2 separate regions of the Homo sapiens genome follow, and region 2 is linked to region 1. The links come from fine-mapping of genetic effects on gene expression. Tissue or cell type: blood mononuclear cells. Region 1 holds a variant in brackets; the other region holds the start of a gene. All regions are shown on one strand. Distances are between the middles of the regions.

Region 1 (8,107 bases):
AGTTATTCTGGAGATCAAGAAAGAATTCAGTATGCTTAATGCAAAGTAACTGCTGGGGTCCTTGTGTGTTAAATATTCTTATGCGAGGAAACTGTCTTCATGTTTTATATTTGCCTTCATTTTCTTTTATTATTTCCAGACCACCTCTATTGGTTATGCTAAGTAATCCTTTTCTCTTTTTGGAGTTTAAACTTTTTAAGGAAACAAAAACTAAAGAACAGAAAGCCAGACACATTGGAAATACAAACTCTTCTTTTACTGCATAAGAAATGAGAAGAAAAACTTAGTGTGAAATTCTGGAGTCTAAAATTAAAATGTAAACAGAGAATGCTCAGTGACCTTTTCTTAGGAGGCTCACATGAAGGAATGTCATGGTACATTGACCAAACTTTTATTCATTTGCATTTTCAGGATGTTGCGATTAATACCACATGACACTCAATAAATTACACTACGACATTTTGTACAAATCACTTCACTTCTGGTTTCCTCTTCGGCTGTTACTTCACCCTCTGGTTACCTGTAGGGAAAAAAAATGTATTTTGGGGCTTTATCTTTAAAGGGCGATTCACAGTTCTAGCCAATGTAAAGATATTGGTTCCCAAGGAAATAGCTACCTAAGTTATGTTTTTTTTTTTTTTTTGAAGGAGTTTTTGCTCGTCGCCCAGGCTGGAGTACAGTGGCGCCATCTCAGCTCACTGCAACCTCCCCATCCCGGGTTCAAGTGATTCTCCTGCCTCAGCCTCCACAGTAGCTAGGACTACAGGTGCCTGCCACCATGGCTGGCTAATTTTTGTCTTTTTAGTAGAGACGGGGTTTCACCATGTTGGGCCGGATGATCTCGATCTCCTGACCTCAGGTGATCCGCCCGCCTGGGCCTCCCAAAGTGCTGGGATTACAGGCGTGAGCCACTGCACCCGGCTCGTGTTCTAAGGAAATAGCTACCTAAGGTATCTTATTAAAACAAATGAACAAAAAGTTTCCCAAACTGTGTTCTAAGGAAATAGCTACCTATCTTATTAAAAAAAAACAAAAACAAAGTTTTATGCTCTAATAAGTTTGGGAAATGCTAGGTTAAACAAAGCTAAACATGATTCTTTCCAGTGGGACATCTGAGAGTCTTTAATTAGCTAACAGTGCATTGTGATTCTGCAAAGGAGGAACAATAATTCACTGTTTCCCAAACTTATCTGACCATAGAACATATTTCTCAGAGTATTTTTCAAGAGTAGTATTTTCTGTAATATATGATGAAAAATAATCGTATCGGCCATCTTTGTACATAAGGTCAAAATGTCAGGCAGCCCTGAAATAAACGCAAGCCAAAAGGTAGAGAGATAAGTGAATAAAGCTGGCACACTGTCAGTCCGGAGTACCATGCTGCATTCTGAGTCAAGCTCCAGGAAACTGAGCTAGGGTTTGTCTCTAAGAAGAAAAACTGGAGCGTCCAAAGCTTCTGGATTCCATTTAATTAAAACCCTTTTAAATTAAATCCTTGTAACTGAAGAGTATCGGTGGATGAAGAAAAAATAGTCTCACATGTCTTCATTTCCATCCTTGGCTCAGTACAGCTCCAGTTCCATTATTCTTAAACATCTATTAACATGATTGCTAAATAATTACACAGGCTAACTGCCAAGCATTTTTCACAGGAAGCAAGGCACTGCTCTTCTGGCTTATGCAAAAGGGTCACTGTTTTTTTTTTTTTTTTAACTTTATCTTGTTTTGATTGAAGAAACATCTCTAAAAATACCATCTGAGTGCAAGATAAAAAGGAAATAGCAATTCAAGGCACAAAGCTAAGCACATGCAACAATATAGATGATTTGGGGGTGGGACAGTACAGAATTCAGAACTGATAGAAGTTATCAGCTCCATATTTCAGAAAGACCTAATGTCTTCCTTCTGCTTATACTGTTCTGACAGAATTTTAATTTTGGCAGAGATCACTCTCGATGTTATGATGTACTGATTCAGAGGTCCCAAATCAGTAACCTGATCCTAGATAGATCCTCAAAGGTCAACTGCCACTAGGTGTCCCCTTCTTGATCATTCTTCATGCTGCCTGGATTGGGGCATGGCTAAGCACTCAAGTCAAAGGATTAGTTGGCAATATCCTACATTGTCAACAAAGCTTTGAAGAAAAACAGAGACAGAAACTGGTATTTACTAAGTACCTAGGTGATAAATTATTTTCATAAACATTACCCTATAAAACAGACAACTCTCCTGTCCCAAATCCAAACAGATCTTTTTCCTTTATTTACAGATAAAGAAAATGGGCTTAGAGAGGTTATAAAATTTGTCTAAGGTCTAACCAAATGCTGATAAGCAAATTAGGTACAACTCTGAGCCAGGTCTCGATGAGTCCAAAGTGTGTTTTATAATATCTTGCTGTCTCTTGATCATTACAAAATTTCATTTGTTTACAGGAGCACAAATGGCCTATTTATGCCTTTTCTCTCAGCATCTAGCAAAACATCTCAACTTTTATTACACCAACTTTGGGAGTCTTGATGATGTTTAAATCTTCTCATTCATTTGCCTAAATCAATAGAGCTATTTATCCTCAACTGTTGGCAATGAACTTTCTTAACTCAGAATTTTGAAAAAAAAAAAAAAAAAAGAAGAAGAAATTCTAAATACTTGAATTGCTTCATTTCATGCTCATTCTTTTGGGCATGGCTCTTTTTGGTTTTCTTTACAAAGAGATTCTAAAATCATGACACATTTAGATATGAAAAATAGGATGGAGAGCAATGGGAACACTAATCTGAAATAGTCACATGGCTAGAGTACCTGTGTCTGTAGTAATCCCAAACTATATAGAAAACTCTTGAATTTATTAAGCAATCCCTCATGTGTGCTTGATTGAAAAAATAAACAAAGCAGTGCCGTAGAACTGTAGACTTGGATTCTACCCCCACTCTTCCATAGTTGCCACCCTGGTTAAGTCTCTCTGATTGTTTCCTCATTATTTAAAATAAGTACAGCTCTTAAATTCCTTCAAAAATTCCCAAGATTCTACAGTCAACTGCCACTCACTTGCCTTTCCAATGAATAAACCGTTTAAAAGAATTCAAATCCCACCACCTTTACCCTTTCTAAATTCTTTTGACAAGGACAAAGGACTTACCCATCCATCTTCCACCTAAATTTGCTTTTTAGTGATAGAAAAACCAAGCAGCAAAGAAAAAAGTATGGTCACTCATCTAGGCAAGAGTGATGTACATTGCTTGGACAATAGTTAAGGAGAGAGCACTTAACAGCCAGCTTATTTTGGTTGCAGGTATCATACCTCATATCCCCTAAGGGAGAGAGAAAAATCAATCTTTTCCAGGAAAGATGGTAATACAGTAAAGCTTCTTTCCCTTGCTTGGCCTGATACCAAATATTTACAAATGAAAATAATTCTATGAGTGCGATTCCCCATACAGATGCCCACAGCACCTGCTTTCAAAATCTTTTATCGGAGAAATTACATAACAGGCTATCTGGCTTGATCCTTACTCTGATAACAAATAGACCTGGGTTTCCTAGTAT[C/G]GCGTCCTTGGTATTTCACTCCTCTCATCGTCTCATCACTTTCATTTCCCCTCATCACCTGACATTGACACAAATGTCCTGATGCAGTAGGATACATCATAAAATGAGAGTCTGTACCATATTCAACACAGCCTGGTAGAGCTGAGCAAACACTAGTCACTCAAAAATATAACTGACTTGACTTTCTGGGTTTAATTTCCCTATGAAGCAATCATTCCTTCAAAATGTCAGGACCAGAAGGATTTCAATGGTAGTGTGCAGTTCTTGCTTGTTTCTTCAAAGATTCCTTGGACATGGCCAGGCCCATAGGTGGATGCACTAGAGGAGACATTCTGGGGTAAATGCTCCCCTCCCCTTTAGATACTCTAGCAGATGATCAAAATGGGAAATAGAGAACTAGTGGGCAATTTTCCCCTCTACACATACATATAAACATTTCCTTTTTTTTTTTTTTTTTTCCAGTTCTGGGCACCATGCCCAGGGACCTTGTAAGCAGAGGTCCCTTGTCAGAAAACATTAGTCACATTCACTGGTAATTCTACATTATAGCCTCATTCATGTGAAGACAACACAGTAATCTTAGTACAGTGCTTCTCAAACTACAAAGTGCCTGTGAATCACCTGGGGACTTTGTTGCAATGTAGATTTAGATTTAATAGGTTTGGAGCAGAGCCCAAACTTCTGCATTTCTATAAATAACAAACTTCAATACGATGTTGATGCTGTTGGTTCACAAATCATACTTGAGTAGCAAGGTCCCAGGTACCTCTGCCTTCCCATATTTGAACCACATTTTACCTGAAGGTCTCCTTGTGGCTGGTTATCCCAAGAAAAATAAGGCAGAAAACTCAGAATTTCTGCCATGGGAAAATTCTACCCTGCACACAGGAGTTAAGTTCTCTGACTCTCATTGCCCAGACTCAGGATCCTGCTTCTTGCCCAGATTGATTTGGCAGAGTCCTCCTATTTAGCTGATGACAAATCCTGGCTCAGCCTAACCAGCCTTGGCTGATGCCACTCTGCCAGCAACCCAAACATTAGTGGTGTGGAGAACCTCCTAAAATATAGATTCCTAGGCTCTAATCCTGAGATTCTGACTCATTCAGTCTGAGGTGTGCCTCAAGAATAAACAGACATCTTAGGTGATTCTAAGGCATTCTAAGATTTGAGAGAAGGAAATGCATGTAACCACTTTGATAGATTGAAGAAACCTGTATCTTACTGCTAATAATATCTTTACATAAAGACAGCAAACAAAGGTAAGAAAAAAGGAAACAGAATTTAAGCATTTGATAGTATAACAGAAGAAACAAGTTCCTTCCCAATTTGGACACTCAAGGGTATTCGTGGTTAAGTCCAGTATATTCTGTCCTCTTCTTTAGAGAAGTTCACTAAAAATGTGAAGTATATATTATATATTCATAGAAAATGATTTTAATGTAGGTATGATTACAGACACACTCAGTGATCAAAACATGAAAGGAATGGTTATTTGCTCTTCTGATTGAACAAATGAAACTAGAATTGTTCATACACATAATTTAAAAAAATATATTCAAGACACCGAAATCAGTTAACAAATATAAGAACTAAACATTAATTAGTGACAGTAAAATGGCAGAAGCAAATATAAAATACAAAAAACAGCTTTACTCAGACTTTTTGACTGCCATGTCCTCCTTTAGAAGGACTACAGTTTGGCTACTTGGTCTCTTCCGGGGCAGATGTGGCATCCTGAGGTGTGTTAGCTTCTGCCGGTGCAGATACAGCTCCTACCACAGTAGGGGTGGTCTCAGATAAAGCAGGGATGGCTTCTGGAGTGGAAGTGGCTCCTGTCTCACTGGGGGTGGTGTCAGTTTGAAAGGCTGGAGTTTCTTGACGGCAGCTGGTGTCTGTTGGACTGGGTATGATGTCAGCTTGAACAGTCATGGCCTCTTCTTCTGTTTCCAATTCTGTTTCTTGATTTTGAACTTCCTCACCCTCTTCTACCATAGCAGGTGGTAGTTGTAATAAAGTCTAATTAAAAAAAAAAAAACAAAGACAATACCAATATGAAAAACAGCTTATAAAGCTAAGCTCTCACATTACCATTCTAGAGTTCTCCAAAACAGTGCTGACCATTTTATACTCCAGATGTAACACCTCTGATGACAATGGTCTAGGTTCTGCTAACACCAAGGAATATGCCTACACAGATGTCATATACTGATAATCAAAATACATATAAAATCTTCAGAGAGGAAAACAACCATGAAAAGCTATTAGATTTTTAAGCAACATACTTTGCTGTCAACATTTCTGCAAAAAACAGTGACTGATCAGGACTGATTATAAAACTAACTCAAGAAAGGGTCAACTTTAATCAAAGAGCCCTGTGAGCTGGGTGCGGTGGCTCATGGTGGCATTCCCGGCACTTTGGGAGGCCAAGGCAGGCGGATCACTTGAGGCCAGGAGTTCGAGACTAGCCTGGCCAACATGGTGAAACCCCATCTCTACTAAAAAACACAAAAATTAGCTGAGCGTGGTGGCAGGAGCCTGTAATCCCATCTACTCAGGATGCTGAGGCAGGAGAATCACTTGACCCTGTGAGTTGGAGGTTGCAGTGAGTTGAGATTGTGTCACTGCACTCCAGCCTGGGTGACAGAGAGAGATTCTGTCTCAAGAAAAAGAAAAAGAAAAGAAAAAGAGCCCTGTGAGAGGCAGAGAGGAGCCTGGCCTTAAGGCAAAGCCATGGGAGAAGGGAGCAGCAAGGAACAAGGTTTCTGTTCCGTTCAACCAGAAAACTGGAGCAACTCTATATGCTTAGCTTGCCCTTTGCCCCATGGCAGTCTAGTGACTTTCTCATCAGGGACTCTGCTTACAATGCTGGAAATTGAATGAATGAATTGATTGATCGATTGATTGATTGACTGAGACAGAGTCCCACTCTGTCGCCCAAGCTGGAGTGCAGTGGTGCCATCTTGGCTCACTGCAACCTCCGTCTCCCAGGTTCAAGCGATTCTCCTGCCTCAGCCTCCCAAGTAGCTGGGATTACAGACATGTACCACCATGCCTGGCTAATTTTTGTATTTTTAGTAGAGACGGGGTTTCACCATGTTGGCCAGGCTGGTCTCGAACTCCTGACCGCAGGTGATCCACCTACCTCAGCCTCCCAAAGTGCTAGGATTACAGGCATAAGCCACCGCGCCTGGCCTTTAAGATTTTTAAAAAGTACCGTGCACGACAGCAGCAAAAAAAAAAAAAAAAAAAAAGAAAACGAAAAAGAAAAATACTTAGCAAAATGTTAACAAAATATGTGTAAGGTTTGTATGTTGAAAACTACAAAATCCTGATGAGAATTTAAAGAAGATCTAAATAAACGAGAGATCTTATTCATGGATAGGAAGACTTAATATGTGAAGATGTTAATCTCCCCAAATAGATCCTAAACAATCCTCCTCTTCAAAATATCCTTTTAAAAACTGCAGCATGCTTTTGGGGGTAGAAACTGACCTGCTGATTGTAAAATGTATACAGAAAAGCAAAGGAACTGGGATAGCTAAGACAATTTCTAAAATGAAGAACAAAGCTAAAGGACTTATGTTATCTAATTTCCAGACTGACTGTAAAGCTACTATAATCAAGGTAGTACAGTCATGGCAAAGGGACGGATATACAGAATAATGGAACAGAATAGAAAGCCCAGACTCTCACATATATAGTCAATTGATATTTTGACTAAGATGACAAGCAAGTCAACAAAGAAAAAAATCGCCTATTAGGGAAGTGGTGCTCAAACAACTGCATATCCACAGACAAATGAATAAAACTCAGTCCTACCTGTATCATATAAAAATTAACTCAAAATGCATCATACCTAAGTATCCAACCTAAAACTCTGCAACTTCTAGAAAAAACCTTTATACCTCTGAGTTAGGCTATGTATTTTTAGGACATAAAAAGCATGAATCATAAAAGAACACTTTGATACATTGAACTTCATCAAAATTTAAAACTTTTGCTCTTTGAAAGACACTTACAAAATAAATAAACAAGCCAGAATGGGAGAAAATATTTGTAAAATACATATCAGATAAAGGACTTGTAGCCAGAATAAATAAAAACCTCTCAAAACTTAATAAAATATACAGCCTAATAAAAAAATGAGCAGGAAACCTGAGCAGACACATCCCCAAAGATATACAGATGGCAAATGACCACATGAAAAGATGCTCATCATCAGTCCTTAGGGAAATGAAAACCAAAACCATACTGAGACCACTGTATATCTATTAGAACTGCCAAAATTTTAAAAAGACGTACCATATCAAGTGAGGGTGAGGATGTGTAGCAACTAGAACTCTCACACTGCTGCTGAGAGTGTAAAGTGGTTCAACCACTTTGAAAAACAGGTTGGTAGCTTCTTAAAAAGTTAAACACATCCTTAACATAAATTCAGCCATTCCACTCTTAGGTATCTACCCAAGATAAAGTACAAAGACTTGTATAAGCAATAGTAGCCAGAAAAAATAAGAATACATACTGTATGCTTCCATTTATATAAAAATCTAGAAAATAGAAGCAA
Region 2 (8,107 bases), 110 kb after region 1:
ACTTAAAGAGCCTCCCAGGCAGTTAGGACACTGGCCCTGAGGAATAGCCTCTAAAAATATTACAGTAACTTCCTACTTAAATGACACCTTCCGGCCAGGCATGGTGGCTCATGCCTGTAATCTCAGAACTTTGGGAGGCCGAGGCAGGCGGATCACCTGAGGTCAGGAGTTCAAGACCAGCCTGGCCAACATCGTGAAACCCCATCTCTACCAAAAACACAAAAATTAGCCAGGCTTGGTGGTGTGCACCTATAATTCCAGCTACTTGGGAGGCTGAGGCAGGAGAATTGCTTGAACCTGGGAGGTGGAGATTGCAGTGAGCCAACACCAAGCCACTGCACTCCAGCCTGGGCGACAGAGCAAGACTCCGTCTCTAAAATAAATAAATAAATAACACCTTCCCAAATTACCAATCACTCTCCAACTCAATAGAAAATCTTCACCTCACCCCCAGTTATTCTGTGGTGTCCTCATTTCCTCATTCTGCTCCCTATGGGCATCATAAATTCAGTCATCTTCTTCTTACATCATACCATTAAGAGAATTGAGTCTAACCTGTTATGATGGACTCAGGAAATTACAAATAAAAATGTATATCCTATCTCTGATCTAAACTGCTTACTGTACATCTGTACTTGATTAAAGATTAGCAAACATTTATTAAGCATCTATCATGTCTCTTCTCTGAGTTTCTCCTTTCCCTTGGGGTCTAACGTGTAATGTCTCAAATATCACGATCTCACAGTATATACACATTGCCCTCCCTCAAACTCTCTAGTCTCATGTAAAATAAAAACTTTCCATTCTCTACTTAGTACAGCTATGACAGTATAAACTGTTTAAAGTAAACCTTACTGAAAGACAAAAAAGGAAATAAAAATATAATGGTATAAAAAAGTGAGGTCACAAAGTTCAGATCTCCAATCTCCTTAAAACTAAATTTTAACCTCTTGATCTCATTCATTCAATAAATAATTTTAAAAGTACCTTTTCTGGCTAGGTATGCCAGATGCTCAGAAATTAAATTAAAAAGAAAGAAGAAGAAAACACCTAAGCCCAAGATGTCCCCTCTACCTAGAAAACCAATTCCCCCACTTTCCTCTCTGCATTTCAAAGTCCAACTCAAATGATACTTTCTCAATGAGAAAATTCTTCTTGGAAATTCTTTCCTTCAACAAAGTAATAATTTCATGCTCTTTTCTCAAAGCACTTCCCTTATACCCCAATCTGGCATTTCTCACATTAAACTACAGTGAGTTCTTTAAGTCTCTTAAAGTCTCCTTCCACAGACTGTGTGTTAGATTGTGAGAACATGTCTGTTTTATTCCCCATGTACTCCCAGCACCTGGTATTGTACTAGGCACACACTGTGTGATGACTATTTGTCAAATGGATACATAAGTGAATTAATGAACAAATATGCCAGATCATTAAGATGTAGTGTGAGAAAGGAAGGTTCTCAGCAATCTTGGGCCATGGGAACAAACATTAATGTCTAATATTTGCCAGATACTGTTTAGGCTCTTCTAGAGTGCAAAGAAAGGTAATCTTTGCCTTCAAGGCCACCCTGGCCTTTTTTTTTTTTTTTTTTTTTTTTTGAGATGGAGTTCGCTCTTGTTGCCCAGGCTGAAGTACAATGGCGTGATCTCAGCTCACTGCAACCTCTGCCTCCTGGGTTCAAGTGATTCTCCTGCCTCAGCCTCCTGAGTAGCTGGGATTACAGGCATGCACCACCACGTCCGGCTAATTTTGTATTTTTAGTAGAGACAGGGTTTCTCCATATTGGCCAGGCTGGTCTCGAACTCCCGACCTCAGGTGATCCGTCCACCTCAGCCTCCCAAAGTGCTGGGATTACAGGTGTAATCCCACTGCGAGCCACAAGCCACCGCACCCGGCCCACCCTGGCCTTCTTTACATTCACACCTTAAGGTGTGTGTACTTGCTATTTCCTTGCTCTTCTCAAAACTGGCTCCTTCTTTGCATTCAGGTGTTAGCTCAAATGTCACCTCGGAGAGAACTTTCCTGACTGTCTTTCATACACCTCAAACCAGTCTGTCACAGCCCTGTTTCATTTTCCTCATAGCATTTATCAGTGTATGAAACTATACCGTTCATCTGTCTGGTTCTTCCCTCTAAAATGTGAGTTCCATGACAGAAGTAAACTAATAAATGACTTCTACTGCAAAAATGCAGGTATATGGGGAAAGAGACCTCTAATCTCGTTTAAGTTGTCAGGAAAAGCCTCTCTAAAGTAGTGTAGAAGGCTGAGAATGAATAAAGGAAGGTGGGGAGAAAAAAAATGAGGATTCCTAGCAGAGGAACAATGTTGAAAAGCCAGGAGATGAAAGATAGCATGGCACATTCAAATAAACGAAGTTCTGTACAGCTAAGGCACAGAGTTAGAAAGGAAGAGGAAAAAGAGGAAACTGAAGATATAAGCACAGGTCAAATCACACAACACTATGAAGGATTTCAGCCGTTAACCTAAGGGTAATTAGAATTCTTTAAAGATTTCTTTTTTTTTGCTTCGTTTTTAGACGGAGTTTTGCTCTTGTTGCCCAGGCTGGAGTGCAATGGTGCGATCTTGGCTCATTGCAACCTCCGCCTCCCGGGTTCAAGCAATTCTCCTGCCTCAGCCTCCCGAGTAGCTGGGATTACAGGCATGCACCACCAAGCCTGCCTACTTTTGTATTTTTAGTAGAGACAGGGTTTCTCCATGTTGGTCAGGCTGGTCTCGAACTCCCGACCTCAGGTGATCGACCTGCCACGGCCTCCCAAAGTGCTGGGATTACAGGCATGAGCCATCGCGCCCGGCTGAAGATTTTAAGGACAGCCAGCCTTAGTGTAGTCCCTGTAGTCCTAGCTACAAGGGAGGCTGAGGTGGAAGGCTCACTGGAGCCCAGCCAACATAGTGAGACCCTATCTTGAAAGAAGAAAAGGAAGGAAAGGAAGGAAGAGATTTTTTTTTTTTTTTGAGACGGAGTCTCGCACTGTTGCCCAGGCTGGAGTGCAGTGGCGCGATCTCGGCTCACTGCAAGCTCCGCCTCCCGGGTTCACGCCATTCTCCTGCCTCAGCCTCCCGAGTAGCTGGGACCAAAGGCACCTGCCACCATGCCCGGCTAATTTTTTTTCTTTTTATTTTTAGTAGAGACGGGGTTTCACCGTGTTAGCCAGGATGGTCTCGATCTCCTGACCTCGTGATCCGCCCGCCTCGGCCTCCCAAAGTGCTGGGATTACAGGCGTGAGCCCCTGCGCCCGGCCGGAAGGCAGAAATTTTAAGAAGGCAAGTGATATGATGAGATTTGCACTTGTATGAAATCACTCGGAAAGCAACATGAAGAATGGGCTAGAGCAGAGCAAGAGGAAGGACAATATAACAGATTACGATACCTTGGTCCAGGCAGAAAACAATGGCAACCAAGCTTAGGGTGACAGAGATGTAGAACACCAGATAGATTCAAAAGATATTTAGAATGTAGAAATGTAGGGACTAAGGGAAAGGGAGGATTCAAAATCACTCCCTAGGCTTCTGCCCTGGCAAATCTGTTGAGACAAGGAATAAAGAATAAAGAAGCAGGTGGGCATGATAACTTCTACATTGAACTACTTACACTCTTATGCAATTCACAAATAAATAATAAGAATGAGGAATGATGCTGACAACCACAGGACTGTGGTTCCCTATCCAAAGCCAACTGTGGCTCACAATGCAAGATAGTAAACAGATTCTAAATGAACGCTCTCAAACTACAGAATTACTCTGTTTTTAGATAGGTCTATTTGGAGGTGTCTTGTCAGTTTCTCATCGCTGCTCAAAAACTCAGGACACTCTAAGGACCAGGAAAAAGCCTACTCCTACTTGAAGAGGCAGTCCAGCATCACTCTGCTGCGAAGCCTACTTGCCAGTCTCAGATAGACTGGGGTGTTCCCTCCTCTCTGAATCCATTGCTCCTGAGACAAACTCCAACACAGCAAAACTCATACAGTAGTTTTATTTTCATGCGTCTGTCTTCCTTGGGCCATGAACTCCCCAGGGCAGGGCAGCTTCTTTCACCACGGTATGCCCAGCACCTAGCATAGTGGCCGGCACGGAGCTGATACTCAGTAAAAAGACGTGTGTGAATCAATTAACAAACGAATGCCTCCTCCGGACTCCTAAATCCTGAAAAAAAACCCCACCACCAGGCCTCGGGGCCACGACGTCCATACCCACTCACACACACCAGACTCGCCCGAGCTCACCTGGGTCACGAACTCCGCATTGATTTGGGACACCGTAGGGGCCACGATCTTCTTGGGCTGCGCAGGGGCTGCCATGGCAGCACTCTTCCCTCCACTCCAGTGGAAACTAAAGGACCGCTCTGGGCAGCGGCAACCCTGGTCCACTTCCCTTAAGTTACTGCCGGGGCGCTTAACTCCGCGCCGCACAAACGCTCCGGGCCGGATATCCTCAGCCTTCAGAGTCCCGTAGGGAACCCGTACAACAGCCCAAGCGTTCCTCGGGAAGCGGAATGGCGTGTAGCCGGAAGTTCATGCAGGCGTTGGGGCTGAGCTAGCGAGCCAAGAGCTTTGACCTCCTCTGTACACGCCCTCTAGCGGGCGGCAGAGAGAAGACACCTCGCTGGCGGGATTAGGAGGGCAAGGGAGGGACCCGGTGGATGGTGTTGGGTGGGGTTTCTCGTGGTTAGTGAAGAGTGCCGTGTGCGGTGAATGGGGATTTAGTTTTTTTTCAACCCTAAAGAAAAAACAAAACAAAACAAAAAAAACAGCCTGGGAATATGGGCTGGGTTTTAACTGCCCTTAACAGTGTTTTAGTTTAGTTTTGTTTTTTTTGAGACGGAGTTTCGCTCTTGTTGCCCAGGCTGCAATGCAATGGTGCAATCTCGGCTCACAGCAACCTCTGCCTCCCGGGTTCAAGCGATTCTCCTGCCTCAGCCTCCCGTGTTGTTGGGATTACAGGCATGCGCCACCATGCACAGCTAATTTTTGTATTTTTAGTAGACACAGGGTTTCTCCGTATTGGTCAGGCTGGTCTCGAACTCACCAACTTTAGGTAATCCGCCTGCCTCAGGGTCCCAAAGTGCAGGGATTACAGGCCTTAACAGTTTTATGGAGGTAAAAATTGACATACAATAACCCAGCCAGGCGCGGTAGTCACGCCTGTAATCCCAGCGTTTTGGGAGGCTGAAGCTGGCCGATTGCCTGAGGTCAGGAGTTTGAGACCAGCCTGGCTAACATGGTGAAAACCCATCTCTACTAAAAAACAAAATTTAGCCGGGCGTGGTGGCGCGCGCCTGTAGTTCCAGCTACTCGGATTCAGGAGAATAATCACTTGAAGCTGGGAGGCGGAGGTTGCAGTGAGCCGAGATTGCGCCATTGCACTCCAGCTTGGTGACAGAGCGAGACTAGCCTCAAAAAATAAAAATAAAATAATAATAAAAATAATTCACATACAATAACCCACACATATTTAGGTTGTAAAATTTGATGCGTTTTGACATGAACATACATTTGTGAAACTATTGCCAAAATCATAATGAGCATATCAAAGCCTCTAAAAGTTTCCTCGTGAACTTTTGCTATCTGTGCCTTTCACTGTTCCCACCCACTTTTCAGGCAACCACTGATCTGCTTTCTGTCACTATAGTTTGCTTTTCATGGAATTTTATATAAATGAAATAATACAGTGCATGCCTTCTTTCACTCAACGAAATGATTTTGAGATGGATTCATGTTGTTGCATGTATCAGTAGTTCATTCCTTTTTTATTGCTTAACATTCGTTCCATTTTACTGATATACCACAGTTTGATAAACTATTCATCTGCTGATAGACATTTGAGTTGTTCCAAGTTCTCAGTTATTACAAATAAAGCCACTATGAGCATTTGTGTATAAGTCTTCATGTGGACATATACTTCCTTTGCTCTTAAATACTTAGGAGTGAAATATTTGGGTTATACGATAGGTGTGTTTGTTTGTTTGTTGTTTGTTTGAGATGGAGTCTTGCTCTGTCGCCCGGGCTGGAGTGCAATGGCGTGATCTCGGATCACTGCAACCTCTGCCTCCTGGGATCAAGAGATTCTCCTGCCTCAGGCTCCTGAGTAGCTGGGATTACAGGCAACGCGCCATCACACCTGACTAGTTTTTGTATTTTTAGTAGAGACGGGGTTTCACCATGTTGGTCAGGCTGGTCTTGAACTCCTAAGCTCGTGATCTGCCCACTTTGACCTCCCAAAGTGCTGGGATTACAGGCATAAGCCACTGCACCCGGCAAGTATATGTTTAAGTTTTTAGAAACTGCCATCTTTCTAAAGTAGTACTATTTTACATTCACATCAGGAGCATATAATTCTAGTTTGTTCTCCACCTCGTCAACACTTAATATGGACAATTTTTTTTAAATTTTTAAGTTCAAGGGCACATGTGCAGGATGGGCAGGTTTGTTACATAGGTAAAGGTGTGTCATAGGGGTTCATTGTACAAATTATTTCATCACTCAGGTATTAAGCCCAGTATACATTAGTTATTTTTTCTGATCCTCTCCCTCCACCCACCCAACCCTCTGGAAGGCCCCAGTGTGCATTGTTCCCCTCTATGTGAATATGGACAATCTTTTAATTTTAGTCTTTATTTATTTATTTATATATTCATTTTGAGATGGAGTCTCACTCTGTCGCCCAGGTTGGAGTGCAGTGGCCCGATCCCAGCACACTGCAACCTCCACCTCCCGAGTTCAAGCAATTCTCCTGTCTCAGCCACCCGAGTAGCTGGGATTACAGGCACACGCCACCACACCCAGCTAATTTTTGTATTTTTAGTAGAGACGGGGTTTCGCAATGTTGGCCAGGCTGGTCTCGAACTCCTGACCTCAAGTGATCCACCTGCCTCGGCCTCCCAAAGTGCTGGGATTACAGGCGTGAGCCACCGGGGGCGCCCAGCCCCTAATTTTAGTCATTTTAATAGGTGTGTGATATATTTCGTTGTGACTTTCATTTACATTTCCCTAATGACTAATTGAGCATCTCTTCATGTGCTTATTTGCTATTCATATATCTTCTTTGGGGAAGCCTCTATTCATATTTTTTGCCCTTTTTTAAATTGAATAACTTGGTTTCTTACTACTGAGTTTCAATGCACACCCCTACCATTCCCAAATCCATACGTAAATTAAACATGTGTCTCTAGTTAAACTCTCCCTGGATGAACACATGCAAGAAACTGATAACACTATTGTTTCCAAGAAGAAGGAACTGTGGGGAGGGGACAACAGGAAGGGGAGAAAAGTTATTTCATATTTTATACCTTTTTGTAACTTTAGAATTTTGTAATATGTATGACATGTTCAAAAATAAACAGTGTAGGCCGGGTGCAGTGGCTCACGCCTGTAATCCCAGCACTTTGGGAGGCCAAGGCGGGCAGATCACAAGGTCAGGAGACTGAGACCATCCTGGCTAACAATCCTGTCTCTACTAAAAATACAAAAAATTAGGCGGGTGTGGTGGCGGGCGCCTGTAGTCCCAGCTGCTCGGAAGTCTGAGGCGGGAGAATCACTCGAACTGGGGAGGCGGAGGTTGCGGTGAGCTGAGATCAGGCCACTGCACTCCAGCCTGGGCAACAGAGCAAGACTCCATCTCAAAAAAATAAAAATTTAAAAAAACAGTAAAAAAATAAACAGTGTGGGCCAGGCGCAGTGGCTCACGCCTGTAATCCCAGCACTTTGGGAGGCCGAGGCAGGTGGATCATCTTGAGGTCAGGAGTTCAAGACCAGCCTGGCCAACATGGTGAAACCCCATCTCTACTAAAAATACAAAAACTTGCTGGGCATGGTGGTGTGCACCTGTAATCCCAGCTACTCGGGAGGCTGAGGCAGGAGAATCACTTGAACCCAGAAGGCGGAGGTTGCAGTGAGCAGAGATTGCACCATTGCACTCCAGCCTGGGCAACAAGAGTGAAACTCCATCTCAAAACAACAACAACAACAACAACAACAACAAAAATAAAAACAAAAATAGACAGTGTGAACGTGAAAGCAAAAGCCTGTAGGAATGGAGATTAAATGTGAAGTCCTTTTTCCCCCTATGTTATTGTGTAAAGTTTAGAGTGCT

What was found. PIP is the estimated chance that this variant, and not a neighbour inherited with it, causes the effect.
Region 2: it holds the start of AQR, and the variant in region 1 is fine-mapped to the expression of AQR in blood mononuclear cells (TOPMed, PIP 0.98).

What each region holds. Positions count from the first base shown.
Region 1 is chr15:34,851,548-34,859,654 of GRCh38, forward strand. It overlaps AQR (aquarius intron-binding spliceosomal factor), which reads right to left. Exons shown (of 35, transcript NM_014691.3): 35 at 235-5,559. The coding sequence ends at 5,245. Among named protein-coding and RNA genes, the nearest start is that of ACTC1, 60 kb to the left of the region's middle. The variant C/G (reference allele first, on the strand shown) is at 3,544.
Region 2 is chr15:34,965,297-34,973,403 of GRCh38, forward strand. It overlaps AQR (aquarius intron-binding spliceosomal factor), which reads right to left and starts at 4,446. Exons shown (of 35, transcript NM_014691.3): 1 at 4,243-4,446. The coding sequence starts at 4,317. RefSeq lists enhancers at 2,507-3,071, 4,240-4,389, 4,440-4,549.